Homo sapiens: one gene and its partners. The protein of the gene in region 1 interacts with the protein of each later gene in a biochemical or structural test. Each region holds a gene or a part of one and is shown on either strand. Other genes may lie near its edges. The genes, in order: PARD3, SMAD1, F11R and JAM2.

Evidence for each region.
Region 2: the proteins of PARD3 (region 1) and SMAD1 form a complex in vitro, tested with the Homo sapiens proteins (one study listed by BioGRID).
Region 3: the proteins of PARD3 (region 1) and F11R form a complex in vitro, tested with the Homo sapiens proteins (one study listed by BioGRID).
Region 4: the proteins of PARD3 (region 1) and JAM2 form a complex in vitro, tested with the Homo sapiens proteins (2 studies listed by BioGRID and IntAct, with this or other methods).

What each region holds. Positions count from the first base shown.
Region 1 is NC_000010.11:34,805,274-34,812,298, forward strand, and holds part of PARD3 (partitioning defective 3 homolog), read right to left. Parts: intron 1-7,025. UniProt on the Homo sapiens protein: Adapter protein involved in asymmetrical cell division and cell polarization processes. Seems to play a central role in the formation of epithelial tight junctions. Targets the phosphatase PTEN to cell junctions.
Region 2 is NC_000004.12:145,512,842-145,519,866, forward strand, and holds part of SMAD1 (mothers against decapentaplegic homolog 1), read left to right. Parts: exon of another isoform or gene 1-641; intron 642-1,596; 5' UTR 1,597-1,772; coding exon 1,773-2,172; intron 2,173-4,172; exon of another isoform or gene 4,173-4,353; intron 4,354-7,025. UniProt on the Homo sapiens protein: Transcriptional modulator that plays a role in various cellular processes, including embryonic development, cell differentiation, and tissue homeostasis.
Region 3 is NC_000001.11:160,997,153-161,004,177, forward strand, and holds part of F11R (junctional adhesion molecule A isoform 1 precursor), read right to left. Parts: intron 4,202-7,025; coding exon 4,133-4,201; intron 3,976-4,132; coding exon 3,868-3,975; intron 3,626-3,867; coding exon 3,479-3,625; intron 3,197-3,478; coding exon 2,994-3,196; intron 2,827-2,993; coding exon 2,724-2,826; intron 2,596-2,723; coding exon 2,488-2,595; intron 2,341-2,487; coding exon of another isoform or gene 2,257-2,340; coding exon 2,244-2,256; intron 1,940-2,243; coding exon 1,891-1,939; intron 1,755-1,890; coding exon 1,719-1,754; 3' UTR 1-1,718. UniProt on the Homo sapiens protein: Seems to play a role in epithelial tight junction formation. Appears early in primordial forms of cell junctions and recruits PARD3.
Region 4 is NC_000021.9:25,635,047-25,642,271, reverse strand, and holds the start of JAM2 (junctional adhesion molecule B isoform 1 precursor), read right to left. Parts: upstream 3,015-7,225; 5' UTR 2,451-3,014; coding exon 2,384-2,450; intron 1-2,383. UniProt on the Homo sapiens protein: Junctional adhesion protein that mediates heterotypic cell-cell interactions with its cognate receptor JAM3 to regulate different cellular processes. Plays a role in homing and mobilization of hematopoietic stem and progenitor cells within the bone marrow.

The DNA of each region.
Region 1 (7,025 bases):
TTGAACCCAGGAGGCAGAGGTTGCAGTGAGCCGAGACTCTGCCACTGCACTGCAGCCTGGGCAACAAAGTGAGACTCCGTCTCAAATACAAGAAGGGAAAAACCAGACACTAGAAAAATATACATCTGAGTTCCAAAACCTTAAATCTTACAGTGTCTGAATAGTTAAAAACACCAAGATTGGGAGAATGTTGACTTGACTATCATCTCTAAAATGACTTAAATTTATACCACCATAAAAGATCACCCCAGAAATACACACGTATGTGCATATATATATATATATATATATATACACCGTACAGTTCGTATCATGCAATATCATACATCTGTAATTCACAAAGGGAATTGTCTTAGTCACTTCTGAGCATGATGTGATTTACATTAAAAGATACTTACCTTGAGACAATAAGAAATTCTGGGGCCGGGCGCGGTGGCTCACGCCTGTAATCCCAGCACTTTGGGAGGCTGAGACAGGCGGATCACGAGGTCAGGAGATCGAGACCATCCTGGCTAACACGGTGAAACCCCACCTCTACTAAAAATACAAAAAAATTAGCCAGGCGTGGTGGTGGGCACCTGTAGTCCCAGCTACTCGGGAGGCTGAGGCAGGAGAATGGCGTGAACCTAGGAGGTGGAGCTTGCAGTGAGCCGAAATCACGTCACTGCACTCCAGCCTGGGCGACAGAGCGAGACTCCGTCTCAAAAAGACAAAAAAAAAGGAAGAAGGAAGGAAATTCTGAAGGACACCCTAGACAAATTTTTTTTTTCTGTTAGAGACAGAGTCTCGCTGTGTCACCCAAGCTGGAGTGCAGTGACACCATCATAGTTCACTGCAATCTCAAACTCCTGAGCTCAAGCAATCCTCCCACGTCAGCCTCCTGAGCAGCTGGGACTAAAGATGCACACAACCATGTCTGGCTAATTTTTTTTTTTTTTTTTTGAGATGAATCTCCCCATCGCCCAGGCTGGAGTGCAGTGTCGCTATCTTGGCTCACTGCAACCTCTGCCTCCCAGGATTCAAGTGATTCTCTTGCCTCAGCCTCCCAAGTAGCTGTGATTATAGGTGTGCACCACCATGCCCAGCTATTTTTTGTACTTTAAGTAGAGATGGGGTTTCACTACTTTGGCCAGGCTCGAACTCCTGACCTCGTGATCCACCCACCTCGGCCTCCCAAAGTACTGGGATTACAGGCGTGAGCCACCACACCCGGCCTATGCCTGGCTAATTTTTTTAAAAAGAGACGGGGTCTCACTATGTTGCCCAGGCTGGGTCTTGAACTCCTGGCCTCAAGCAATCCTCCCACCTCAGCTTCCCAAAGCTCTGGGATTACAGGCGTGAGCCTTCTCACCCAGCCAACCCTAAGCAAAATTTACCCTAACTCTGAATAGCATCCATTTGACCTGGAGAGCAAGCCCCGTCATTTCAAAGTTGGGGGGGTCGGGGTGAGGCAAAATATTCTCACAGCATGGAGGGAAGCAGTAAGAGGTCCTGGACCCTGTATAACCATCTGAAAAGCCACTGCACATCACTTATGGTCCCATGAGCACCAAAACAAACCATGCAGAGCAGGAGTCCCTGCACAGCTCAGGGAACTGGCAGTGGGAGTCCAGCCCAGCACCTCTGAATATGAGAACATGGGGAAACAGAGGCTCACAGAGCTTGTAAGATTTGCCAAAGCTCAAAATTTCTGGGAGCCAAAGCCAAATGCTGGAAAGGCTGGTCCATTACGTGCATCCTTGGGGCATTCTCAACCTCCACTGCACAAAGGTAGCTGGCGAGCTGGGTAGAAGGAGTCTCTGGCTAAAGAACAATTGGTGAAGCCCTTAGAGGGGGTAGGGGGTAGCACACAGAGACCAGGGGACCTGGAGGCTCAGCAGCCAGGAGCTTACCAGACACTAAACAGGACACATTGGACAGGCCTGAGAAAGCAGGGATTCCACACTATATGGAAAACTCCTAAAGACAGCCAGTTTTCATTTGAAGTGTTTTGAGCATCTCTGATACACATATATATGTCATTTTATGAAATGCTCAGAACTACAAAATACCTAAAAATGGAGCGTTGTTCATAGTGGCTTATGCAGTCTATTTTTCTAACATCTTTATTGACATATAATCACATAACCATAAACTCCATCCATTGAAAGTATACACTTGAATAGAACTGTGCAACCATCACCATGATCTTAGAATATTTTCATCATCCCAAAAGGAAACCTCATACCCATTCACAGTCTCCATGACTCCAAACTCCCAGTCCTAGCGGAACACCACTCTACTGTCTCTATAGAGCTACCCACTCTGGTCATGTTATAGGAACAGAATTATACAATATGTGGGCTTGCTGCTATGAACACTGATGTACAGGTTTTGTGTACACATTTTCATTTCTCTTGTGTGCTTGTGTGTGTGTGTATATATATAAAGAGTATATATAAAATATATACAGAATAGAGTACAGAGACTATATACAAAATATACTCTGTTTAGGTGAAAAAAATAAATAATTGATATTTAAAGTCACTTGGATGTGGAGCTTGAAATTTTACTTGCAAGGACCAATATGAGTTGATGGAGAAAAAAGGAATACACAAAAGTAATATTTAAATGGCAAAAACCACGTAAAGATAGCAGGCCAGATGCAAGAAGGCACAGACCTATACACGAAAGTTATTTTAACTTTATTTACTAAAATGTTTACTTATTTACTAAATAAGTTAAAACAAAGTTATTTTTACTTATTTGCTAAAATTTAGGCCAGGCATGGTGGCTCGTGCCTGTAATCCCAGCACTCTGGAGGACCAAGGCAGGTGGATTGCTTGAGCTCAGGTGTTTGAGATCAGCCTAGCCAACATGGCGAGATGCCGTCTCTACAAAAACTACAAAAATTAGCCAGGTGTGGCGGCACACAACTGTAGTCCCAGCTACTTGGGGGACTGAGGCAGGAGGATCGCTTGAGCCTGGGAGGTTGAGGCTGCAGTGAGCAGAGATCACGCCACTTCACTCCAGCCTGGGTGACAAAGACCCTGTCTCAAAAAAAACAAAAGAAAGAAAGAAAAAACTTGTAAATAATGACTAAAAGACAAAAAAAAATCAGTCATCTTTCTACTTTATTCACTGAACTCGGCATTTATTTTGATAAAGATTTGCTTTTGTACAGAAAAGGTACCCAAAACAGGTAAAACTGTATACATTTACTGATGTCCAGCTCTACTGCCATTGACCTTGGTCCCAGCCAGGAATGTTGAGCGAGTGGCCAAGCAGGATGAAAGCATGCTGTGTGGGCTTAGCATGCCATCTCCCCCGATGGAAAATTACCTATAGAAAGCACCTTCTGGCCCAATCTTACATGTTTATTTCCATCCTTGATAAAAAATACCGAGGGCTCTAATCATCTATGGGGAGCTCAACATCACCAACTTGCACCCAACTCTGTGGGGAGGTAGAACCTCCCAGGACAGACGGAGGATCCGTCTGTGGGTTTGCATCCAAGTGGGACTTTAAATATTCCCTCCACAACCAATTTATCCATGTCTACCACAAGCCAAGAAGCGCTTCACATCCGCCAGATTCTCTCTGAGAATCTCAGATCCTAAACATTCCTACTTAGTCCTGGCACTCAGCCAAGCATCTCAACTGACGGAATCAGAGGCGCCAGACCAAGCATAGGTGTGTTCCAGGGCCAGATTCTCACACAGCCCTGGCCACCTGCCTTGAACCTCGCCCAAGGCGAATCCCAGGAGGGTCCTCTGCTTGAGCTGAAAAACAAACTGAACTCCCTCAAGACAGCTGATACGAAAGAGTAACTTCCAAGTACTCCAAACCTCATTAAATCTTAGTTTCCATTACAAGCTGTTTGTGCCAGTAGGTCAAACACACCAAACCTTAAAGTCCTTTAAATTCACGAGTGCTGATGATAGTCCTCTCAGCAGAAGTGTATTTTTTGTGTGAGAGCAGTGTAACATGTTGATTCTCAGCTTTCTATTTACTCAACATTCTGACTGCAATGTGACAGACACGGGCTATTCACCAAGACTGAAGCTCAGCCACCGCTTCAAGCATTTCACCCGGAGGGAGGAAGGGCGCACGGATACACTTGAAAACCACACAGCACAGCCCAAGCATCTGAGTCGGTACAGGAGCTACACCCAGGACGTCCCCAGGAGAGGCAGCAGGCAGGGAGAAAGATCCTCTAGCAGCTTGGGATGGAGAGCCAGCCTCCTGGAGATGGCTGTCTGGGCTAAGACTCACGAATGAGTGCAAGGAAGGAGCAAATGTCCCAGGCAGAAGAAACAGAAAATGCCAGAACAGAGGCAGCAAAGTGTATGTGAGTCCCAGGGGGTGGAGCAGCTGCAGAGGGAGTGGCTGGAAGGCAAGAGGGGTCCCTACAGGGACAGGCTGTGCTCAGAAGGCAGGACTTGGAGAACGCGGGACAAAGGCGCTTCAGCACCAGAGGACAATGTGACTTGAATTCTGGAAAGATCAGCCTTTCAAAAATGTTTAGTTTCTTTTTCCTTTTTAGAGGGAAGGCAGAAAATGTTAAAAAAATAAATAAATAAATAAAGCTGCTTTCATTTCACTATTTTTATGCTTGCCTCTATTTTCTTTCAATCTCTGCAACAGTACAACTATTTTCTTAAAAGTTTCAATACGCTTGTAAATGAATAACATGCAGTCATACATTTATTCACAGAAAAATTCCATACCAACCACAAGATTTTTCATAAAAACCATGACTGTCATTGTTACTAATCAACAGTCTCCCGCCACCAAAAAAGCACATTTTCAAAAGTTTCTGTCCATGAGCTCAACTTTTTAAAAAATACAGGTCAAGCATCCCTAATTGAAAAATCCAAAATCCAAAATACTCCAAAATCTGAAACTTACTGAGCACCCACATGACGCCACACCTGGAAAATTCCACATGTAAGTACTTACCACAGACTTATTTTCAAGCACAAAAATACTGCATAAAATTACCTTCAGGCTATGTGTATAAGGTACGTAGGAAACATAAATTCTAACAATACATTAGACTTGGGTTCCATCTTCAACCTATCTCATTATATATACAAAAATATCCCAAAGTCCAGAAAAATCCAAAATACTTGTGTGGTCCCAAGTATTTTGGATAAAGGATGCTCAACCTGTAATAACAACAGGTTGCTATTAAATCACTCTAAAGTGATGTGCTTGGGGACAGAAGCCAGAGGCCCCAATAATCAACCTGTAATCAAGCCAATACCCGCAGCTTTTACTTCCCCAGCCCATACACACATGCAACACACAATTTTGTTCTCCTGATTGTGGTGCTGCACGTCATTCAATCTCACATTCTTACCTATCCTTCAATGAAATTACATGCTGCGTTTTTAAGTAAACAGGAAAAATCCAAGCAGCAATAGTGGGACACCTGGGAAAGTTCCCTGGGTGTAAAACTGCTTGGTGGATAAAACATATTGGTGATTCCATTCATCTTTACGGAGCAGCTAGTATGGGCCGGGCCCAGGACTTTAGAGTTTCCCTCTCATCATCCTGTTTAATACTTACATTAACCCTGCCAGGGAATATTCCACTTGAGATAATGGGGCTCCGTAGGGTTGGTGTACCCAAGGTTAAATGGCCTGTAAACCTAAGTCACCAAACCCAATACAAAGCTCCCCTATACCCAAGGTTAAATGGCTTGTAAACCTAAGTCACCAAACCCAATCCAAAGCTCCCCTACAGGCTGAGAGGAGAGCTATGAGGGAGGTGGGAACAGTGAGCAAAGGGGCTCCAGCACCTCCTTGCCCTCACTTTTGCCCTTCACTCTCTCCTTCCCCTTTTGGTCACTCAGCAACCTTTATTTAGAATGAAATGCTAAGGAATTATCCATCCAAACCTCATCTAAGGTTGCTCAGGTCATCCTCCTAGAACTACTTGTTACCCTGACTCTTAGCTAAACACCACAGTCCTTCCTACTGCACGAAGTCTCAGGGTCTTGCCCTGGCATTCTGTCCTCCTCAGTTTGATCCTGACCCCCTGGGCTGAATGCCTGAATCGCCTTTGTCCATACTGCCTTCCTGGAATGCCCTCCCTTTCACTTATCAGAATCGTAGCAGACATTCTGCAGATTCACACACCTAGACCCCAACTGCAGACCTCAGACCCAGAGCCCATCTGCCCCTGCAGGCAGGTGCCTCACCCAGTTAGCAAGCACTGCCCTATATCAAGGTCAGCCTTCCCACCAACCAAGCCCAGTTCAAATCCTAGTGACTAAATGAGACTCCCACACACACCCCATAATGATAGCACCCACCTCCAAAATCCAGAAGCGATTACTGACTGTATCACAGTGGTGCCAATTAATGCTACCACCTCCTGTTATTTATACTGTTATATATTCTTCCTGTCTCCTAGATTATACTTTTTTTTGAAAATTGCACGAATTCAGTCTTATATTTTTTTCATAGAGCATGACTTTTTATACACAGCAGCCCTTCAACCAACCCCACACAGCGCTGCAGCTCAGCACCATGTCCACCTGGAATCACGCGTGTCAGGTCGCAAGCGCAGAAGAACAGATGCAGACACGGTCCATCCTCCCATCCTGCGCCCTCATGAGAACGGTCCATGTAACGCGGTTCCCAATGTCTAGCACCGCACTGTCCTCAGCGAGGCTCCTAATGCAGATGGGTGGATGAGGATGAACAGCTATTCCCAACCATCAGTGATCACAACCACAAAACCATCTTTCAGGAGAGGAAAAAAGAAATGTCACACATGACTAAGCATAAGCCTTCAAATATCTACTCACTGAGGACATGTCTAGTATTAAATCATGACACTTCACTATCCAGAAAAATTGATTTGTGTAATCTGAAGAGAAAACAGCTCACATGCAATGCCAGAAAATTAGCCCCACCACACCAGAAAATGTTTACTGCAGAGAAAGCCTTGGTGATTTGAGAGTTGGGACCTTTCTCTTTTCCTTTTTATTTTTTATTTTTGGCTTGGTTGGTTATTATCCAAAGCCATAAACA
Region 2 (7,025 bases), on another chromosome or scaffold:
GAATTTGTTTTTCTTCTGGCAAGCTGTTAGAGAGCAATACCCATCACCTAGACCAAGGCTAGGATTAAGATGATTCTAGATTGGTTGTAAAGACTGATCCGTTTCATTTTTGCCCTTAGACTGGGGCATATTCCTCCAGGAGCTTCCATTGAAAGCCTAGACTATTTACCAGGGTTTCTCCTCAGCAGGCCCTCAACTCCATTTGTTGCTGTGTTGTTATTTTGGGGTTCCTCAGCGCTATGAGGCTACTAGAAGCTCTGCTTAGTTTTTAGCCTCTTAGTTACCTCTTTCTGCTCGGCTCCTAGACCTTTTGCTGCTCATAGCATAGCTATTGGCAAATCCCTGGAAAGAGTGGTGACGAATATTCAGCTCACTTCATTGCATTTCCCCTCTCTCCAGGATCTTGGCCCCCTCAAGTCCTGAGTGCCTTGGTTCCTCTTTGATGCCTTTAAAAAGCTGGGCTTTTGTTTGTTTGTTTTCTGGCTTGTTTGTTTGGAAGGAGGTTGGTCTGATACGTGCTACTCCAGTTTAGCCAGGGTTTGTACAAAGTTAACCTCCTTAACCTTTTTCACATTTTATGTTTTCATGTGCTAAAGAGTAAACAGTTTAAATGAGGCAACTTGGCTAAAGAATTTGGTACAGTATGTGTCCATGTGCTTTATTCCTTTTATGTCAATAAATAGCAACATTTTTAAAGCAGGAGATGTATTTCCTATCCTATTTGTCCTGTAGCCCATAGACACAGGCTTGTTCACTGAAGAAATACCCTAAAATATTACTACATTTATATAAGAGGAATTTTCTTTTAGCCTAAGAAATATTTGTAGAACAAACCAAAAAAACAGAGATATTAGACTATTTTTTTCTCCCTGTTGCTTTCAGTTTTTGTTGATTGAGGTGTTTTGAAATATATTTTTAGAGGTTATAAATGAATCTAAATCTAAAATATTACAATATCTTTTGAGAACTTGGGCTTTTTAACTTTGTTGCTTTTATCCCAGAGCTTTTGCTAACAGTGGCTTACTTTTTAAACTGCTTCTCAGTTTACTCATCTGTAAAGTGGCAGCAATTGTATTACCTAACTCAAAGGATTGTGAAAAGCATTAAATGCTATATATTAGTCTGCTTTGGTTGCCATAATAAAATATCATAGACTGGGTGGCTTAAATAACAGAAATAGATTTTCTCTTTGTTCTGGAGTCTGGAAAGTCCAAGATCAAGGTTCTGGACAATACAGGCTCTGGTGAGGGCTCTCTTCCTGGCTTGCAGATGATCACCTTCTTGCAGTACCCTCAGTGTGTGTGCATAGAGGCTGGAGGAGGGAGATAGCAATCTTAAGACCACCAGTCCTATCAGGTTAGGGCCCCACCCTGATGACCTTACTTAACTTTAATTACTTTCTTAGAGGCTCCATCTCCAAATATAGTCATACTGAGAGTTAGGGCTTCCGCATATGAATTTTAGGGGTCACAATTCAGTCCACAGCATACTGTATTACATAAAAGCACTTAAAATAGTACCTAGCACATGGTGATTACTTAATAAATGTGGTTGTATGGTAAAGATGATTCTAACCATTCTTTTTTTGTTTTGTAGGTGCTGACTGGGTTACTTTTTTAAACACTAGGAATGGTAATTTCTACTCTTCTGGACTTCAAACTAAGAAGTTAAAGAGACTTCTCTGTAAATAAACAAATCTCTTCTGCTGTCCTTTTGCATTTGGAGACAGCTTTATTTCACCATATCCAAGGAGTATAACTAGTGCTGTCATTATGAATGTGACAAGTTTATTTTCCTTTACAAGTCCAGCTGTGAAGAGACTTCTTGGGTGGAAACAGGGCGATGAAGAAGAAAAATGGGCAGAGAAAGCTGTTGATGCTTTGGTGAAAAAACTGAAGAAAAAGAAAGGTGCCATGGAGGAACTGGAAAAGGCCTTGAGCTGCCCAGGGCAACCGAGTAACTGTGTCACCATTCCCCGCTCTCTGGATGGCAGGCTGCAAGTCTCCCACCGGAAGGGACTGCCTCATGTCATTTACTGCCGTGTGTGGCGCTGGCCCGATCTTCAGAGCCACCATGAACTAAAACCACTGGAATGCTGTGAGTTTCCTTTTGGTTCCAAGCAGAAGGAGGTCTGCATCAATCCCTACCACTATAAGAGAGTAGAAAGCCCTGGTAAGTGAGTTATTTTATGTTGATGTGCTTTGTGTGCCCAGTACCAGATTTGTGTTGTTTAGAACATGAAAATAATCCCTTTGCTTGTTTTTAGTTGTAATTTAAAAATATTTGGGGAAACTGTGTGTGTGTGTGTGTGTGTGTGTGTGTGTGTGTGTGTGTGTCTGTGTGAATGCAAGAGAGAAAGCCCCTGAGTGTTTCATACATTTTAACAGCTTAGTCATCTCTAGTTAACATTATGTCTTGGGAGCAGGCTATGACAATTGTCATTGCAGTACTAATACCTCTAATTTTTAATAAATTGTTTTCTTTCTAAATTTATTTTTTATGTCTCACATGGTTCTCTGCATTTCTCTAGATAAAATTAGCTATGAATTGTATTCTAAGGGAAGAAAATTAGGAAAGAAATGCATTATTGCTGTCTATATGCTTAAGGGAAGTACATCATGAGGGTAGTTGCCAGTGACTTAAACCATTCTGAACTTAAGAACAGCACTTTTTATCATCTCTGGCGGAATTTTGCTGTGGCATATTTCCTATGGTGAATATGAAGGAATTATATCCTTCTATGGAATCATTTGATGCTATTACTTTATAAAATATACCCAGTTTTTACATGTATAGTCTTTTGGGAGGGTATGGTAAAGGATATATTTTAAAATTTATACGGTTTTGCCCTCAAGTTAGAATCTACATTCTAGAGAGTTGGATCATTGGAAAGTGATTAGATATTCAAGCACTTAAATGTCTCATTGTCGATTGGGACCAATTTTGTTGATGGATTGGCTGTTAATAGTTCCTGGGTTACTAAGGCTGTATATTAGAATCACATGGCTCTCCTCCCAGAAATCCTGATCCTGGGATAGCCTGGTAATCTTTGTTTCTAACAAGTACTTCAGGTGTTACTGATGTAGCTATTGGATTGGTGTTTAGGAATTACTAAACTAGATCATGTAATAACATGGTTTTCAAATAAAAGGCATTCTGTATTTTTGTGGAATATTTAAGACATATTTTAAAAAAAGATTTTAAAGACCAGTAGTATAACAAACATCTCTGTATCCCCTACTCATTTTAAGAAATAAAAGATTACGTGTAAACTGGAACCCCTGTTTTTGCTCCTCTGATTCTGCTCCCTTTGGTAACCACTGTTCTGAATCTGACGCTTATCATTCTCATGCATGTTTTTATACTGTTATTACATATGTATGAGTCCATGACAATATGTAATATTTTATATATTTAAAAATGTTACATAATATTGGAGTTTCTTTGTACAACTTATGTTCATCCAACATTACGTTTTTGTGATTTCTAGATTATATACTTTAGGATTACCTTGTTAAGTCCTATGAAAAACACTTTGGGAATTTATTGGAATTTCGTTGATTTCATTTGGGGAAGATTGGCCTACTGTGCTCTTGAGCATAATATTATTTAGTGCACTTTTAAGTTTCTCCATACAGCTCCTGCACTTACTAGATTTATTTCTAGATAACTGGTTTTTATTGTATCCTTTTAAAAGTTACATTTTGTTACAGTTGCTCTTGGTTAAGAGAGCATTGCCTTTTTTCTAACAACTGTGCTGAATTCTCCTTACCAGTTTGGATATAGACGTTCTTTACTGCTTGTTATATCAGCTGTGATGCAGTGTTCTTTTTTCTAAACTCAGCACAGAGGTACATGTCCCTCTTCTAGCCAGAAATGGAAATGGAGCTAAGAGTTTTGGAGAGTAAAATGTAGTAGATAAGTAATATGTACCAGCAATATTATTTAGGCACATGATTTTTTTGATCCTCGTAGTAACCTTAAAATGTATTAATACATAGGTAAGATTTTAATTCTACTCCATATGCGATGAAACTGAGGCCCCTACAAGTTAAGTGCCTTGTGTTAGAACTAGAAAATAGAGGCATTTGACATGAAAGGCAAAATTCACTATTTAAAAGACACTATGAATATGTCTTCTCCATCCATACTCCCCCTCACCCTGCGCTAACCTTCCAGCATTTCATCTTGCAATGCAGCAACTGCCTCCTGACTGGTCACCCCCTTCAGTCCATTGTCTACAGAAAGGGATCTTTTAAGATGCAGACATGATCCTCTTGTTGTCCTACTTTTCCCTACTCTTGAGAAGTCCTCTAGAGAGGTCTGCACATTCTGGTCCTTTCCTCCCTTTCCAACTTCCTTTGTACTCTTGCATGCTTTGTGTGCTTGAGTTCTCTGGAAACATTCCATGCACGTTTCCTCTATCTGTACCTGTTTCTCCTCCCTCTTTGTCTAGCCCACTCTTATTTATCGTTTGTGTCTAGCACATGGTCATTACTTAATAAACTAAGTAATTGTGTGATGGAGGTCAGTTTCATTGGGAAACCTTTCTTGATACCTCCTACTTCACACATATCTCCCTACTCTGCTTGGGGAGGTTAGGTCTCATTTCCCATAGCAACCTGAATTTCTTTAGAATGTTCTTCACACTTATAATGATTGTTCTGTTGGTCTTCTCTGCAAGATAGTAAATAAAGCTCCATGAGGGCAGGGACTATGTGTATAATTAACATCTCTATTTTTAGCAACAAGCATAATTTGATAAATTTTTGCTGTTAAATGGTGATGCTGATTTTTAATTTAATATCGTCATTTGGCCATTTTTTTAGTGCTGAATTTTCAGTTTATCTATACCTTTTGACCATCTTCTTCCCTTCTTTGGTCATTTTATGGCTATTACACCTCTGATACAAGGTGAAAAGTTAAAACCAATACTGAGATGAATTTGTTACTCTTAATAACATATGTGCTAATAAAATAATGGGGAAGAGGTGGAAAACTGGCTTACATAGGCATTTTGAGACTCCACAAATGCCATTTCAGCCTCTCCTTTACCCAGGAATCTTGTGAGTCATGGATAGAATAGAACAGTTCTGGAAAACATGGAGGCTGAGGCTAAGATCTATTTAATTTGAACATATCAAGATTTTATGTATATTTTTCACATTATGAAGTGACTGATGTGGGAATTGGAACAAAGGACTTTTTCCAGAGACCACTATGAAGCAGTCCCTGTACCTTCTGAAGAGAAACTCTACTAAATCAAAGTGCAAGAGGCAGCCAGATGTGGTGGTACATGCCTGTAGTCTCAGCTACTCAGGAGGCTGAGGTGGGAGGATCACTTGAGCCCCAGAGTTGAAGGCTGCAGCACACTATGATCATGCCTGTAAATAGCCATTACGTTCTAGCCTGGGCAGTGTAGTGAGACTCTGTCTCAGAAAAATAAAGTTAAAAAAATGCAGCATAGTAAAACCCCATCTCTACTAAAAATACAAAAATAAGCCTGGCGAGGTGGGGGGCGCCTGTAATCCCAGCTACTCGGGAGGCTGAGGCAGAAAAATCACTTGAACCTGAGAGGCGCAGGTTGTAGTGAGCCAAGATCATGCCATTGCACTCCAGCCTGGGGGACAAGAGTGAAACTCCATCTCAAAAAAAAAAAATAAAAATGTGCAAGGTGACTTAGCCCCTCACACTGCCAGAATTGAAGCCCTCTATAAAGCCGTACAGAGTACACCTGGGTATTGTTTTTGTGAAATCAGAAAAAGGGGGTCTGGAATTCTAAGCTGCACATATACACAGCTCAACACTGAATTATTTTGAACTTTGTCACTATTTTACTTCTGATGAAGTATCTCAAAGAACAGTTTAGCAGTTTAACATATTTAAGTCTCCCAAACTTGGTGACTTCTGCTGAGGTCTCAATGACTCTTGAAAAAAACTCAAAAATTGAGAATATTTAGGTTTAGAGTAGTGGTTTTCAAAGTGTCGTCCACAGAGTAGTAGCATCAGTACCACCTTGGAACTTGTTAGAAAAGCTAATTATTATTTTTAAATTGACAAATAATTGTATATATTTGTGGAATACAGTGTTATGTTTTGGTACATGTATACATTGTGGAATGATCAAATGAGGCTAATTAACATATCTGTCACCTCCCATGTGTATTTGCTTATTTCTTTCTTTTTCTTTTTTTCTCTTTTTTTTACTGCCTATTCTCTGAACCATTTTTTTGTTTGTTTGGTTGGCTTTTTTTTTTTTTTTTTTTTTTTTTGAGGTAGAGTCTCGCTCTGTTGACCAGGCTGGAGTGCAGTGGCATGATCTCGGCTCACTGCAACCTCTGCCTCCCAGGATCAAGAGATTCTCCTGCCTCAGCCTCCCGAGTAGCTAGGATTACAGACGTGCATCACCACGCCCAGCTAATTTTTGTATTTTTAGTAAAGATGGGGTTTTACCATGTTGGCCACGCTGGTCTCGAAGTCCTGACCTCAGTTGATCCACCTGCCTTGGCCTCCCAAAGTGCTGGGATTATAGGCGTGAGCCACTGAGCCCAGCTGAACCTTTTTTTTTTTCACCATACTAATTTCTTTTTGGTGAGTACATTTAAAATCCACCCCTAGCCTAAGCAACATAGCAAGACCCCGTCTTAATTTTTTTTTTTTTTAATTAGCGAGGCATGGTGGCATGTGCCTATAGTCCTACCTATTCAGAAGCTAAATCAGGAGGATCACTTGAGCCTAGGAGGTCAAACCTGTAGTGAGCTATCATCATGTCGCTGCACTCCAGCCTGGGTAAGAGAGAGACTCTGTATCAAAAAAAAAAAAAAACCCACTTTTTTAGCAATTTTGAAATATACAATGTATTATTAACTATAGTCACCATGCTGTGCAATAGATCACCAAAACTTACTACTTCTAGCTTAAGGTTTGTACCCTTTGACCAGCATTTCCTCTGTCCATGTTCACCCCTCCCTGCAGCCCCTGATAACCACCATTCTAATTCTACACTCTACTTTTATGAGTCTATT
Region 3 (7,025 bases), on another chromosome or scaffold:
GCAATGACAGCCAGGCTGTCCGGCTCATTCCTGTTCATTCACATGCAGACCACCCATGATCTGGTCTTCAAATTTCTTCTGAATTCCACCCCACTAAATACAGTAGCAGTTACTACTTTAAACTACTACTAAAGCACTTGTTCTCCAAATGACCTGAGAAATCCCCTTGCCTCAGCTCTGGGACAGTAGTTCCTACAGCTGTAGGGAGGTCTGTTAATGCACCTGGCTGAACAGGAGGTACAAGAGTAAGTACCTTCTCTCACTTGGTGGAACAGGCCAAGGAGATCCCCCAAGTACAGCATCAGCTTCACCCTGTGTACCTTCCTCCAGCAAAGGAAGGCCTGGCCACAAGAGGGCTCTGGAATGAAGGCCTGAAATTCAGAAGCTCTGCCTTGAGATAAGAACCAGGAAGGGGCAGGACCAGGCACTGGGAACCAGCCCCAGGTTGCTGGGAAGCAAGGCTTTGAGGCATTTTCCTGTTGTACAAAGGAGCCTAGGAACCCTCAAAGACCTTTTCCCCTACTTACTTCCCACAAAAAAGAGCCTTGACAAACCAAGGTTTTATTTCCAGCAACATTCAGCTGATACAAACACATAGAAATACAATCTCACCAAAGAGCTAAGAAGCCCTCCAACACACGCCCAATTTCAGCATACAGCTAAGACTACACAACACACACACAAGCTCAACAAAGAGCTAAGACCACTACACACATCTCCACAGCACCACAGGCACATCTCAAAAGGGTCTGTCCAGTAGTTCCAGCCAAGGGAAGGGTGATGGCCTAAGCCACCAGCTCCAGCTTTCTTTTCTTTCTTTTTTTTTTTGAGCTGGAGTTTTGCTCTTGTTGCCAGGCTCCTGAGCAGCTGGGATTACAGGCATGCACCACTATGCCTGGCTAACTTTGTATTTTTAGTAGGGTTTCTCCATGTTGGTCAGGCTGATCTTGAACTCCTGACCTCAGGTGATCCGCCTGCCTCAGCCTCTGGGATTATAGGCGTGAGCCACTGCGCCCAGCCTCCAGTTTTCTTTTCTTTAGAGCAGCGGTTTTAAATCCTTTTGGCTTCAAGTTCTCTGAAAATTTACTATGCTCTCCACAACAAGAGCTCCCATTTTCCACAGACACAGTCAATGTCAGTCAGCTTGTATTCAGGAGGACAGGGCAGAGGGATCCCAGTGGCACTTCCCATGGGAAGACAGAAGAGAGTGGGCCCCAGAGATGGAAGGACCCCAGTGTCATCACCAAACAACCATTTCAGCCGCTCTAGCCTCTAATTCCCGCTCTAGAACAGCTGGCCCTGGTCGTCAGTACACAAGGAAAGAGCCCAGAACCAAGCTCAAGATACCTATTCAAAGATCCCTGCCAGCCAGGTGGGCAGTTGAGTGCAGATTCCTGCGACCCCCGCCATTTTTGCTGTCTACTTAGAAGGGAAGTCAATGGCATACCCAGGATTCCTTCCTGATCCCTCAAAGAAATGGGGAATAAACACTTTAAACAAGTTCCAGGCCACTCAGCAGTGGTAGGAAAGGGAGGGAGGGCATGAAGGAGGATGGGGCACATAGCTGACATTATTAAAAACACATCCGAAGAAGTAGGGGGCCCTGTGGGGTGTAGAAGACAAATAAGGCATCCTGTGAAACTACAGACATCAGGGGCCAGAGTCCGGTAGCACCTGAGTAAGGCAAATGCAGATGATAGGCGGTGAGCCGACCAGGCTCACACCAGGAATGACGAGGTCTGTTTGAATTCTCCCTGCAGAAATAAAACATCCAGTCAACTCTCAATAGTCTTCTTTAGCTGATAATCCCCAAAACACATAAACATGGGCTAGAAATCTCCTCACTCCAGCCCCAGGTGGCCCACCCCTGCCCAGGGGAGGCATACTCACTTCACTTCGGGCACTAGGCTGGCTGTAAATCACCTTCTTACTCGAAGTCCTGTGAACAAGCCAGAAGACAGAGACACTCAGCCACCTAGGTGCTTATTAACCTCCCCTTGCCAACTTTAAAGGCCAGAAGCGAGAATGCTACAGAAGCACAGAGTGCGCAGCAGACAGGTATGGGTGGGGTAACAGGACAGACCCAGGGCCAAGGCCACAGAGAAAGGGCTGGATATCCAAATGCCTTCCCTCCAAACTGGTTGCTTCTGCCTTCAACCCATTCCCCTAGGCCCACTTCAGCTTCAAACCACATGCATCCATGCTCTCAAACTTGGAGAACCCCAGGACAGCACCTCACTCACCCTTTCTTTGTTCCTGAAAGAGAAGAAATGGGATCATGAGTGTCAGCAGGACAGAAGACAGCATGGCTTGGGAAGATGGAGGGGCAGGCCCCCAGCTCTTGGTGTTAGATGGGTGATCAGTGTTCCCCAGGGGACAACACCCACACACATGAGCACAGTATCAGGGTCAGTACTCAGATGACACCCATGCCAGGCCCTGGGATGGGGGCAGTACAAAGGAGAGCCTCTGGGGGCAGATACTTACTGTCAAAGTGGCCTCGGCTATAGGCAAACCAGATGCCAAAAACCAAGATTCCCAGGAGAATCAGGGTTACAAGGACGGCTGCCACGATGACCCCCACATTCCGCTCCACTGCGAGACACAAATAAGAAGTCAGGCACGGGGATACTCACTCACGGCACCTACAGTATCACCAATGGCAGGATGAAAAGCAGACCCCAATCCCCACCCCAGGTCTGGGCTCAAGCCCTAACTCTCACCAGCTTCCATGCGCACAGCATTTGAAGTCATGGGTGTCCCATACCCATTCCGTGCCTCACAGCTGTATTCTCCAGTATCAGAGGCTGACAGGGGATCAAAGACCTGAGGAAGGAAAACAAATTGGCTTCCTGCTGAAGAAGCAAAATAGACATTTTTTAATGTCTCTTGACCCCAGTTCCAAGTTCACCCTGTTGCCTGTTCTTCCTCCCACCTTTTGGGGTTCTATAACTGCATCCCCCACACATCTTTCACCACCACCCCATACATACCAGCTCTCCTGTTGTGGGATTCAGGACATAGGAAGAGTTGCTGAAGGCACGGGTGCTTTTGGGATTCGTAGGCATCACTATCCCATCTTTGAACCAGGTGTATTCAGAAGGTGGGGAACCATCTTGTTCTGAGCATGTCAGCACTGCCCGGTTCCCAATGGTGGCAGAGGAGGGGATGTTAACTGTAGGCTTGGATGGAGGCACTGTGGAAGAGAAAGACAGAAGGTGCTGAGTACAGGGTGGGGGCTGCTTGAGTCTAAGTAACCAACTACAATGGTACCCCCAACTACTCAGCTCAAGCCTCCTACTCTCACCATGCCCCTGGCTGCCACCTAACCAGGGGCTCATCTCCCTCTCTGGCAGCTCCAGGACTCTGAATAGCCCACCTGTGGGTATTCTCACCATCAAAGAGCTCCAAAGTGCAGCAGAGCCTGCTATGAGAAGTAACTAACTCCAGGCCCACCCAGAAGACATGGGGCACGTACCAAGCACGATGAGCTTGACCTTGACCTCCCCATAGCTGTTGCCGCCTTCCTCAGAGACCATACAAGTGTATGTCCCAGTGTCTTCCCGTGTCACGGACTTGAAGGTGATACCAGTTGGCAAGAAGGTCACCCGGTCCTCATAGGAAGCTACCACAAGAGGAGGCAAGAGCAAGGACAGAGTGAACTGGAGAGCTAAGGGAGGCTGATGAAGGGGGCATCCAAGGTACGCAAGTGCTCTCCTCTTCCCCCAGAAAGGGGGGTAGGAAGGCCATGAGGACTTCAGCCCCAGGGTGTGCCCTGGGATAAGGGCACAAAGTCTGGATCGTAGAATCCAGGCATGATAATCCCTCCACAACCTAGGCAATCAGGAAGGAGGAGAAGCAACTCACCTGTGATCTTGTTATTATAGCAAACGAGTCTGGTGGTGTCTCCTTGGTCAAACTTCCACTCCACACGGGGAGAAGAAAAGCCCGAGTAGGCACAGGACAACTTCACAGCTGCAGACAGGGTCAAAATGAGCCGAAGGAAGAAGCAGCAGCAAATACACGAGATGGGGAACAGCCCCAAACTGCAGGCTGGGCTGGGTGCTCTCTAGATCCCCAGGCGGCCGGCAACTGCTCACCCTCACACCCTCCATGGCCCCTCCCAACTCACGATTATTCTCAGGAATTCTGACTTCAGGTTCAGAAGAGTGCACTGTAACACTGCCCAATGCCAGGGAGCCTAAGGAGAAAGAAAGAGGTGGGCCCTGTCAGGAGTGGACAGAGAAATGCCAGGAAGAAGGAGTCACAGACCCAGTGGACAGGGCTTCTCCATTCACAGACCCTAAGAGGAAGGGATTCCAGACTTATGCTCCCTCTGGCTCTCACACTTTGTCACCATGATCCTAAATGTCTTCTTTAAGTGCTTTTTGCTACAATTGCCAGCTAATACTTCTTTTATCCATGGGAATGCAGTTTCTTTTGCTTCTAATTTTTCTCTCTGTGACTCCCAATAATCTAATTAGATTTCTACTAGTCCAAGGGCAGCTTCCAGAATGACATTTCACTGTTCAGAGAAAGCTTCTCAACAAATGATTGCAGCCACTTGTCAGGACAATCCTGGAAGGAAGCCAGCAGGGCTGGAGGCAAGGGATGGAAGGGAAGGGCAGAGCCATGATGAGGATAATAATAATACTCGACATTTGTGGAGCATGTGGTGCTTTTAAAAGTGTTTTCGTGTACATTATGACACGTTGCATCATTTGATCCTGGACACAAGCATGACAGATCGGCAAGACGTATATTATTATCCCGAGTTTACATGAGGAACTGAGAGTACAAGAAGTAAATGTGCCTAAGATCACACAGCTGGGGCCAGGTGCGGTGGCTCAGGCCTGTAAACCCAGCACTTTGGGAGGCCGAGGTGGGGAGGTCATGAGGTCAGGAGTTCAAGACCAGCCTGGCCAATATGGTGAAACCCCATCTCTACTAATAATACAAAAATTAGCCAGGCATGGTGGCACACCTGTAGTCCCAGCTACTTGGGAGGCTGAGGCAGAAGAGTCGCTTGAACCCGGGAGGCGGAGATTGCAGTGAGCCGAGATCGCGCCACTGCCCTCCAGCCTGGGCGACAGAGCAAGACTCAATCTCAAAAAAAAAAAAAAAAAAAAAACACACAACTGGTTCTGAGGTGAAGTTTGCACTAGAAGTGGGTTCAGATCACCTCATTAGAATATTCTACTTGCCAAATGGAGAAAGAAAAGAAAAGATAGTGTGTGCTGGGTGGAGGGAGGGAGAAGCAACAAGGCTAATTAAATAATATGGGGGAGGTGCATCAGGGTTCATAGGAGGGACCCACAAAGGTCAAATTAAGAACCAGTGACCAGGGATTCTGGGATCACATGATGCAGCTACAAACCTGCACTTACACAATTATTCTCATCCATGTTTTCAAAGTCAAATTCATGAAATATCCTTTTATTTGTAGCTTCAAGTCAGGACCCTGTCTTAGATAAATGTTTGTAGAAGTCAAGCACATCTGTTAAATTCAAGTACATTTTTCTTTTACTTAATTATGCACATAACTGAATATGGTCTCTTGACCTCTGAGACTCCCCTTCCTCTCTGAAATATGAAATAGATGTGCTCTAAAGTCCTTTAGGTTCTTTTTTTTAAATTTTGGCATTAATGTTTAGATAATATTTGTATACCTGTATTTCAATCTGATATAATAACACTATGAATTAGTCCAGATAAGTATTCTCTCTCCCATTTTATAGATAAGAGACTAAAGATATAGGTTACTCCTATATCCTTTTTCTCTTATTATACTCTCTATTTATTTGTTTTTTTTTTTTTTGAGACGGAGTTTCACTCCTGTTGCCCAGGCTGGAGTGCAATGGCGCTATCTCAGCTCACTGCAGCCTCTGCCTCCCAGGTTCAAGTGATTCTCTTCAGCCTTCCAAACAGCTGGGATTACAGGCGCTTACCACCATGCCGGCTAATTTTTGTATTTTTTTTTTTTTTTTTGAGACAGAGTTTCGCTCTTGTTGCCCAGGCTGGAGTGCAATGGCGCAATCTCGGCTCACCGCAACCTCCACCTTCCGGGTTCAAGGGATTCTCCTGCCTCAGCCTCCCAAGTAGCTGGGATTACAGGCATGTGCCACCATGCCCGGCTAATTTTGTATTTTTAGTAGAGACAGGGTTTCTCCATGTTAATCAGGCTGGTCTCGAACTCCCGACTTCAGGTGATCCGCCCGCCTCAGCCTCCCAAAGTGCTGGGATTACAGGCGTGATTAAGCCACTGCACCTGGCCTAATTTTTGCATTTTTAGTAGAGATGGGGTTTCACCACGTTGGCCAGGCTGGTCTCAAACTCCTGACCTAAAGTGATCTGCCCGCTGCAGCCGCCCAAAGTGCTGGAATTATAGGCGTGAGCCACGGCGACCGGCCTAATTTTCTTTTTTTTCTTTTGTTTTTTTGTTGAGACAGAGTCTCACTCTGTCGCCCTGGCTAGAGTGCAGTGGTGTGATCTCGGCTCACTGCAACCTCTGCCTCCCACATTCAAGAGATTCTCCTGCCCCAGCCTCCTGAGTAGCTGGGATTACAGGCGCCCGCCACTACGCCTAGCTAGTTCTAACTAGTTTTTTGTATTATTATTATTATTTTTTTAAGATGGAGTTTTGTTCTAGTTGCCCAGACTGGAGTGCAGTGGCGCAATCTAGACTCACCACAACCTCCGCCTCCCAGGTTCAGGAGATTCTCCTGCCTCGGCCTCCCTAGTAGCTAGGATTACAGGCAGGCGCCACCATGCCCGGCTAATTTTGTATTTTTAGTAGAGATGGGGTTTCTCCATGTTGGTCAGGCTGGTCTCGAACTCCTGATCTCAGGTGATCCACCCGCCCTGGCCTCCCAAAATGCTGGGATTACAAGCGTGAGCCACCGCGCCCGGCAATTTTTTGTATTTTTAGTAGACAGGGTTTCACCATGTTGTCCAGGCTGGAATTTCTTTTTTTTAAAGAGCTGGGTTCTTGCTACATTGCCCAGGCTGGTCTAGAACTCCTGGTC
Region 4 (7,225 bases), on another chromosome or scaffold:
CAAATAATTTATGAAGATACTCCGCCTTCAAGGAGATGGAGCATAACTCTCCTTCCTGAAGAAGTGTGGGTTGCATGTAGTGACTTCCTTCCAAAAAAATCTAGTATGGAAATGAAGAAAAAAGGGTAGGTAATCTGTGGAGAAAACTGGTATGCACTACATTAGGAGTATGATTACAGGTGACCTAGGTTCACATCAACAGCAATAAGTCATGTGTACGGTATGTTCCCTGGAGATAATGTGATGAAAATGTCACTTTACCTAGGCCCCTTACCACTTTCTGATCTTCCTCCAAAAAACCTATAACCCCAGTCTAGTTATGAGAAAAATATCAGAGAAACAGCAATTCGCAGTCATTCTACCAGATACTTGACCAGAACTCCTCAAACCCATTATAGTAAGAGAAAGCAAGGGAAGCCTAAGAAACTGTTACAACCAAGAAGAACCTAAGGAATCAGGACAACTAAATGTAATATGGTAGCCTGGATGGCATCCTGGAATAGAAAAGGCATTAGGTAAGAATGAAGGAAATTTGAATAAAGTGTACCATACTAATGTAAGATATTAACAATGTGGGAAACTGGGTGTGGAGTATATGAGAACTCTCTATACTAGCGTTGGAATTTTTATTTAAATCCAAACTGTTCTAAAATTGTTTTAAACATAAAAAAAAAAACACCCACATACAAAGAAAACACTCTTGCAATGCCAGATCTTTTAGTATCCCAGGAACAATATAGAAAAGTCCCCACAACACTTCCAAATACATCCCCTATAGGAATCAAGTTTAGCAGAGACAATGTGTTATATTTACCTAAAGCTTGAAGAGGTCACTCAGCCCCATTCATTTATGCTTTTGTTCGCCTCTTGGTTGTTTCTCCACTACAATTTCAGACTTGGGGTGTATTGTTTCTATGTTGGTGATTCAATAGGAATAGCACAGCAGAACGATTTTCTGTTTTTAATTAGTGACAATTCTACACTAAAAGGCACACTCTTTTCTATTTGAAATTTAGAATTTCAGCAGAATACATAACTTTCTCAGTTGTTCTGTTAACGATTTCTCCAGCCTACCTCTCTGTTGCCTTTTAGCATGAGTGCATTTTTTTTCTTCTGTGTGTTCCATATGATACCAATTGATATTTCAGAATTGCACAAGGGTTTCATTGTGAAACTTTGGCTTTCTGGTTTGACTTTATATAATATTGGTCAGTACATGTCCCTTGCCTGAGACAATGTGCACCTTCCTCCTCCACAAAGGGACGTGGCTCACATCACTTGAGCTGTGCGATGATCACTTGGGCAGCGAGGGCGTGAGAAAATATCATTGTATTGTGGTATTAGACACTCGTCCCGCAGGTTAAGTATTATAAGTGTTACTTTACCAGAACGTGAATAGCAACAATAACTCATTTTACAAAAGAAAGAAAGAGAGACAGAAAGAAAGAGAGAGAGAAAGAAAGAAGAAAGAGAAAGGAAGGGAGGAAGGAAGGAAGGGAAAAAAGCAAAACAAAAAAGGTGAGAGAAAAAAGAAAAAGCAAAAGTAGAACTGCATTGCTTAGTCTATTGTAATTTCCTCCATTTTCCTAAAAAGTTAACGCGAAGAAAACAAAATAACGGCAACGTTCCCAGGATTTCAAATCTCATGAGTCCAGAATCCGTGAAAATCCTGTTTAAAATCATCCGGTGAAATTGGCTTTGGGACGTCTCCCCAGCTACTGGATCATGTGGCTTCTGAATCTTTCTAACAATCGTCCCGTTGGATGTCCCCTGAGGACAGAGCAGCTGGCTAGAGTCCCCAGACCAGACTTCTCTAAGTGAATGTAGATGTGCAGGTGGAGAGGATAAAAGTAATTCTGGCTCAGCAGCCACGAATTCCCTCCACCTCCGCCCCACAAGTGCGCTGCATATCGCCGGCTCAGCTGGGACGCTACAGAGCCCAGACCACGCGGACGCTGCCCCCTCCCCGGGGACTCAAAGTGTGGCCGGCGCCCGCCTCCCAGTGATGCCATCTTTCTTGGGGTCTTAGCATCTTACCAGTGGGTAGTGAGTTTTGCATTCGAATCACGTCCCTCTGTCTGAAAACTTACCCCAACTTTGCAAACAGATGAGAACCTGCTAGTGGGAACCCTTAATTTTCTGTATCTAGAACTGACAAAATCAGACGCAATTCACAAGAAACCCACGACCTCGCGCTCCCTTGCTCCCAGCGTCCGCTCGCGGGCACCCTGGGTTTCCCGCTCGCCTGGGCGCAAGGTCAGACGCCCCGCGGCGACCTCGGCCCAGAGCCGCCCAGACACTGTCAGCCAGCGCCCCGTGGGGGGCTGGAGGGTGGGGGCAGGCTGGTCCAGGCAGGAAGGGTAGAGGAACCCGAGCAACTTACAGCCCAGGGCGACCACCAGGTAGCGCAGCAGCAGCAGGAGGAGGCGGTGGCGGCTCCTCCTCGCCATCTTCCCGGGGCGGCAGCCGGCTGCTCTGAGGAGGTCGAGGGTCCCGGCGGCAGGAGCGCAGGAGGCCGGGGGCCCTTGAACTTCTGGGGCGGGAAAGGAGCAGAGAGTCGGGAGGGGAGGAAGAGGAGGGACGGCTCTAGATGGGATGTCAGTTTCCCCCTCCCCGGGGCGCCTTCTCAGCTGGCTGCCAAGAGGCGGGTCCTCCAGCCCAGGGATGGGGGTCTGTTCTGTTTTGGGGGTGTGGGGGTAGGGGCTAGAGGGCGTGAAAACCAGACGAGGCGTCCGCCGGGTCCTAGCGAGGGGGCAGCAGGAGGAGAGCAGCGCCCGGGAAAGCCCCGGCGGGTCGTCCCTCCGCCCCCACGCCTCCGGGATTGATCGGCTTTGTGTCTGGTCCGCGCGGGGCTGCCAGCTGTCCCCAGGGCGAGGAGCTGGGGGCGGGAGGCGCGGGCAGGCTGGGGGTGGGGGGATTGGGTGTCTCGGGGACGGGGATGTATGCGGGTAGGGAAACGCCTCCTGTTTTGCCCCAACTCCTTTCTTCCCCTCGTTGGCTCAAAACTTCTTTCTGGCTTTTCAGCCTAGGGGTGGAGATATTTGGAAAATTCTGCCCAACGGGCGAAGCTGAGGGGGTGGCGCTCTGAGGAGATGGGGTTCGCGGGCTCCGCCTCGAACTCGAGAAAAAAAAAAGCAATCAAGACTCGTGCTGGAAGTCAGGTCTCAGATTTTAGTACAGCCTTGGTCCCTTCTCAGTTTAAGCTTTTTGCTCCTTGGAGATTTGAGGTGCATTTGTCTCGCGTTCTTGTTCTTTGCTTTTTTTTCAGTGTCAGAGTTGGAAGTTCATCTAATGGTGTGAAATATTTATCATGTTTCTTTCAAGTTACATAACTGCTGCTTGTGGAGTTTTCCACGTGTTAAAACTCTACAGCTGCCCTTTGTCAGGTTTATTTTTGGTCTACTGTGCTTTTAAAAGGGAAACCCATTATGAATGCTCTGTTGCGTGCTTTAAAATTGCACCACACTTACATTGGACGCACGTACACTGGCAATTTTTATATTTGTTCCTAGGGACCAAAAATGTATGGTGTATTCAAGAGTATTGGCAGGTCTGGAAAAAGGCCATTCCCAGGAGAAGAAATTAGTATACATCAGTTTTTTTCTTTTGTTTTTTTGTTTGTTTTTGTTTTTGTTTTTTTTTAAAGGTTGAATAATGGATGAAGTTCTGTACAGCAGATAGTTGATTTAGTGGTGTATTTAAAAAGAATTCAGCTAGCTCAGTGGACAAAGGCGACCAGAGTTTAGCTGTGCAGAACTGTGAGGAATGAGGCATCCTTGCTGTTGCCGTGGTGACAGTGATGAAAACTTAGTACCCAGGGAGGGGGTGGGAGGAGAGGACCCAGGGGACCCAGAAAGGAAAGTCAAAATGGCAAAATGTTAAAACTCGTACTCCAGTCAACCGAGGAGAAGGGGCACAGATTTAACAACAGCTTATGCCAGTTTTTCTGGGCAGTAATGAGAAGGATTTGATGCTTAAAAAGAAAAGTTGTTGGCATCTTCTTTTTTCTAATTCTTGCTACAGCTATATGTCTTTTACTCCTCCCTAAAAATATACACAAAAATGTCATACTTAAAAAAATTCTATGCAATCCTATGTGAGTAACTGACTAAGTTATTTATTTGCCACCCAGCCAAGGCATTTGACAAATGGCAACAATGTGCTGGATGCTGAAGGACAACCATGAACAAGATAGAGGCTTTCTTGCTAACAAGCTCACAGTCTTGAGGGGAGACAGAGTCTTATCAGGAAAGATGCCTGATACCACATGGTAAATGTTACAGGAGGACAGAAAATAATAACAGCTATTTTTATTGCATGCTTTCTCAGTGATGGAGTCTGAATAACGCAATATCTAATCCCCCAACAACTCCATAAAAGAGGAAATGTTATCATTCCCACTTTGCAGATGAGAAAACTGGGCGGAGAGACACTAAATGGCTTGTCCAAGGTCCATGATAAGGGGCTGTTCCTTTTGTTGGGAGTGGGGCCAGGGCTTTCTTTATTAAACCTTGAAAAATGGGTCAAATTCTGAAGGGAAGGACATAAAGGAGAGGCATTCTACATAGAGGAAACAGCAGGATCCAGAGCTAGGAGATTGAAAAATTATGGTTTATTTAGAAAAAGCAAGGTTCTACAGTACTAAAGTGTATGTGGGATCGGGATAGTGAGGTAGGTGGTGGTGGTGGTAGAAACTGAAGGGGAGGTTAGAGTACGAAGAGCATTCACGCTACTGTCTAGACCTCATCCTACAGCTAATGAGCTTTTTGAAAGCAATGAGATAAGAAAAGACTCATATTTTAGAACTGTGGTGTCCAATATGGTAGCCTATAGATCTAAGTGGCTATATACATTTTTTTTGTTTTGTTTTTAATTTGAGACAGAGTCTCACTTTGTCACACAGGCTGGAGTACAGTGGTGCAATCTCAGCTCACTGCAACCTCCGCCTCCCAGGTTCAAGTGATTCTCCTGCCTCAGCCTCCTCAGTCCAGTAGATGGGACTACAGGCATGTGCCACCATGCAGGCTAATTTTTGTATTTTTTGTAGAGATGGGGTTTCGCCATGTTTGCCAGGCTGGTCTCGAACTTCTGACCTCAGATGATCCACACGCCTTGGCCTCCCAAAGTGCTGGAATTACAGGTGTGAGCCACCATGCCTGGCTGGCTATATAAATTTGAATTCAATTATATGTAAAATGCAGTTCTCCACTGACACTGATCACATATGAATTTCTCAATAGTCACATGAGGGTAGGGGCTACCATATTGGAAAATGTATTTCCATCATTGCAGGAAGTTCTACAAGAGAGTGCTGCTCTAGAATGATGACTCATATTGAAATGTGCAGGATGGATTACAGAAAAGAGAATCAGGGTGTTAGTCAAGTCTAAACTATTACAATATCCTGAGAAAGAGACCAAGTTGTGAAGTAAATGGTCACCGTGTGATAAATGAAAAACCGGGTGGATTCAGATGATATTTCACAAACATGGTCAACAGGATTATGTTATCAGCTAGATGTAGGGGTGAGAAAGGAGAGAACATGTAGGTATCAGATTTCTAGCATAGGTGGCTGTATGTGGAGGTTATAAATAGTGTCATTAAAGGAATAAGAAACATAGAGGGCATACATAATTCCTGCAGGTTTGGGATGAGTTGAGAGAGAGAAATATAGCTGGGGTGACCAGTAGACTGTTAGAATGAGTGCTCTAGAGAACAGGAAACCCTCAGGATTGACTAAAGAAATAAATATAAATATTAGCAGCATCTTCTAGAACAGTGATCACTGGACTATCTTCTCCCCAGAATCCTTTGGAGCTCCTTCATTATGATTCTTTCCTTAAAATTATGTTAAAATTCTGAGTTTCAGAAGTTTTAATCTCAGCAGCCCCAGGAAGCTGTATTATTAACAAGTACCTTGATTAATTCTGATGCAACGAATCTATGGATTATTGTTTGAGGAACTTTCTAGAAGGCAGGAGCAGTGAATGAGATCAATCAGACAAAGAAGTGAATGTTTATGGATAAATCTAAGGAAATAACTGCAGTAAGAGGTAGGAAGAGAAAGAACCCAGAGAAAGAACACAAGAAAGAGCAGTCAAAAAGTACAAAAGGAACTGGGAGAGAATCAGGAGCTAAAGGTGGAGGTGTTTGTACAGTCCAAGGCTAAAAAGAGGGTTGAGAATTGTCTCTTGTATTTAGTGTCTATGAGGGTATTGCCCACATGGATAATAGAGAAAGCAAGCCTCCAAAAAACATGTAGAAAAAATTTGCAGACTTGAGTTTTATACTTAGTAAAGCAACTAATGCATAAGATATATTAAAAATATTTAAAAATTTTTTTAATTATTATGGGTACATAATAGTTTTATATATTTATGGGGTACAGGTGATGATTTGATACAAGCATACAGTGTAGCAAGCAGGGTAATTGGAATATCCACGTCCTCAAGCATTTATCATTTCTTTGTGTTAGGAATATAACCACCCAATGGGTTCACCTTGCCCGATGCCCAGATAGAGCTGATTTATCAAGACAGGGCAATTGTAATGGTGAAAGAGTCATTCACGCAGAGCTGGCTGTGTGGAAGATGGAGTTTTATCATTACTCATATCAGTCTCTCTGCATTCAGGGATCAGAGTGTTTAAGGATAATTCTTGGTAGGTGAGGGAAAGACCAGTGGGTCGAGAGTGCTGATTGGTTGGGTTGGAGATGAAATCATAGGAAGTTGAAACTGTCCTCTGTGCTGAGTCAGTTCCGGGTGGGGGCCACAAGATCAGATGAGCCAGTTTCTCCGTCGGGGTGGCACCAGCTGATCCATCAAGTGCAGGGTCTGCGAAATATCTCAAACACTGATTTTAGGAGCAGTTTATGGAGGGTCAGGATCTTACAGCCTCCGCCTGAATGACTCTTAAACCATAATTTCTAATCTCGTGGCTAATTTGTTAGTCCTACAAAGGCAGTCTAGTCCCCAGGCAAGAAGGGGGTTTGTTTTGGGAAAACGTTGTCACCATCTTTGTGTCAAACTATAAACAATGAACTAAGTTCCTCCCAAAGTTAGTTCAGCCTACGCCCAGGAATAAACAAGATCAGCTTGGAGGTTAGAAGATGGAGTTGGTTAGGTCAGGTCTCTTTCACTGTCTCAGTTATAATTTTGCAATGGTGGTTTCAGGAACATTCCAAGAAAAAAACTATTCATGACGCTTGTTAAAGATGGTAAGGCAG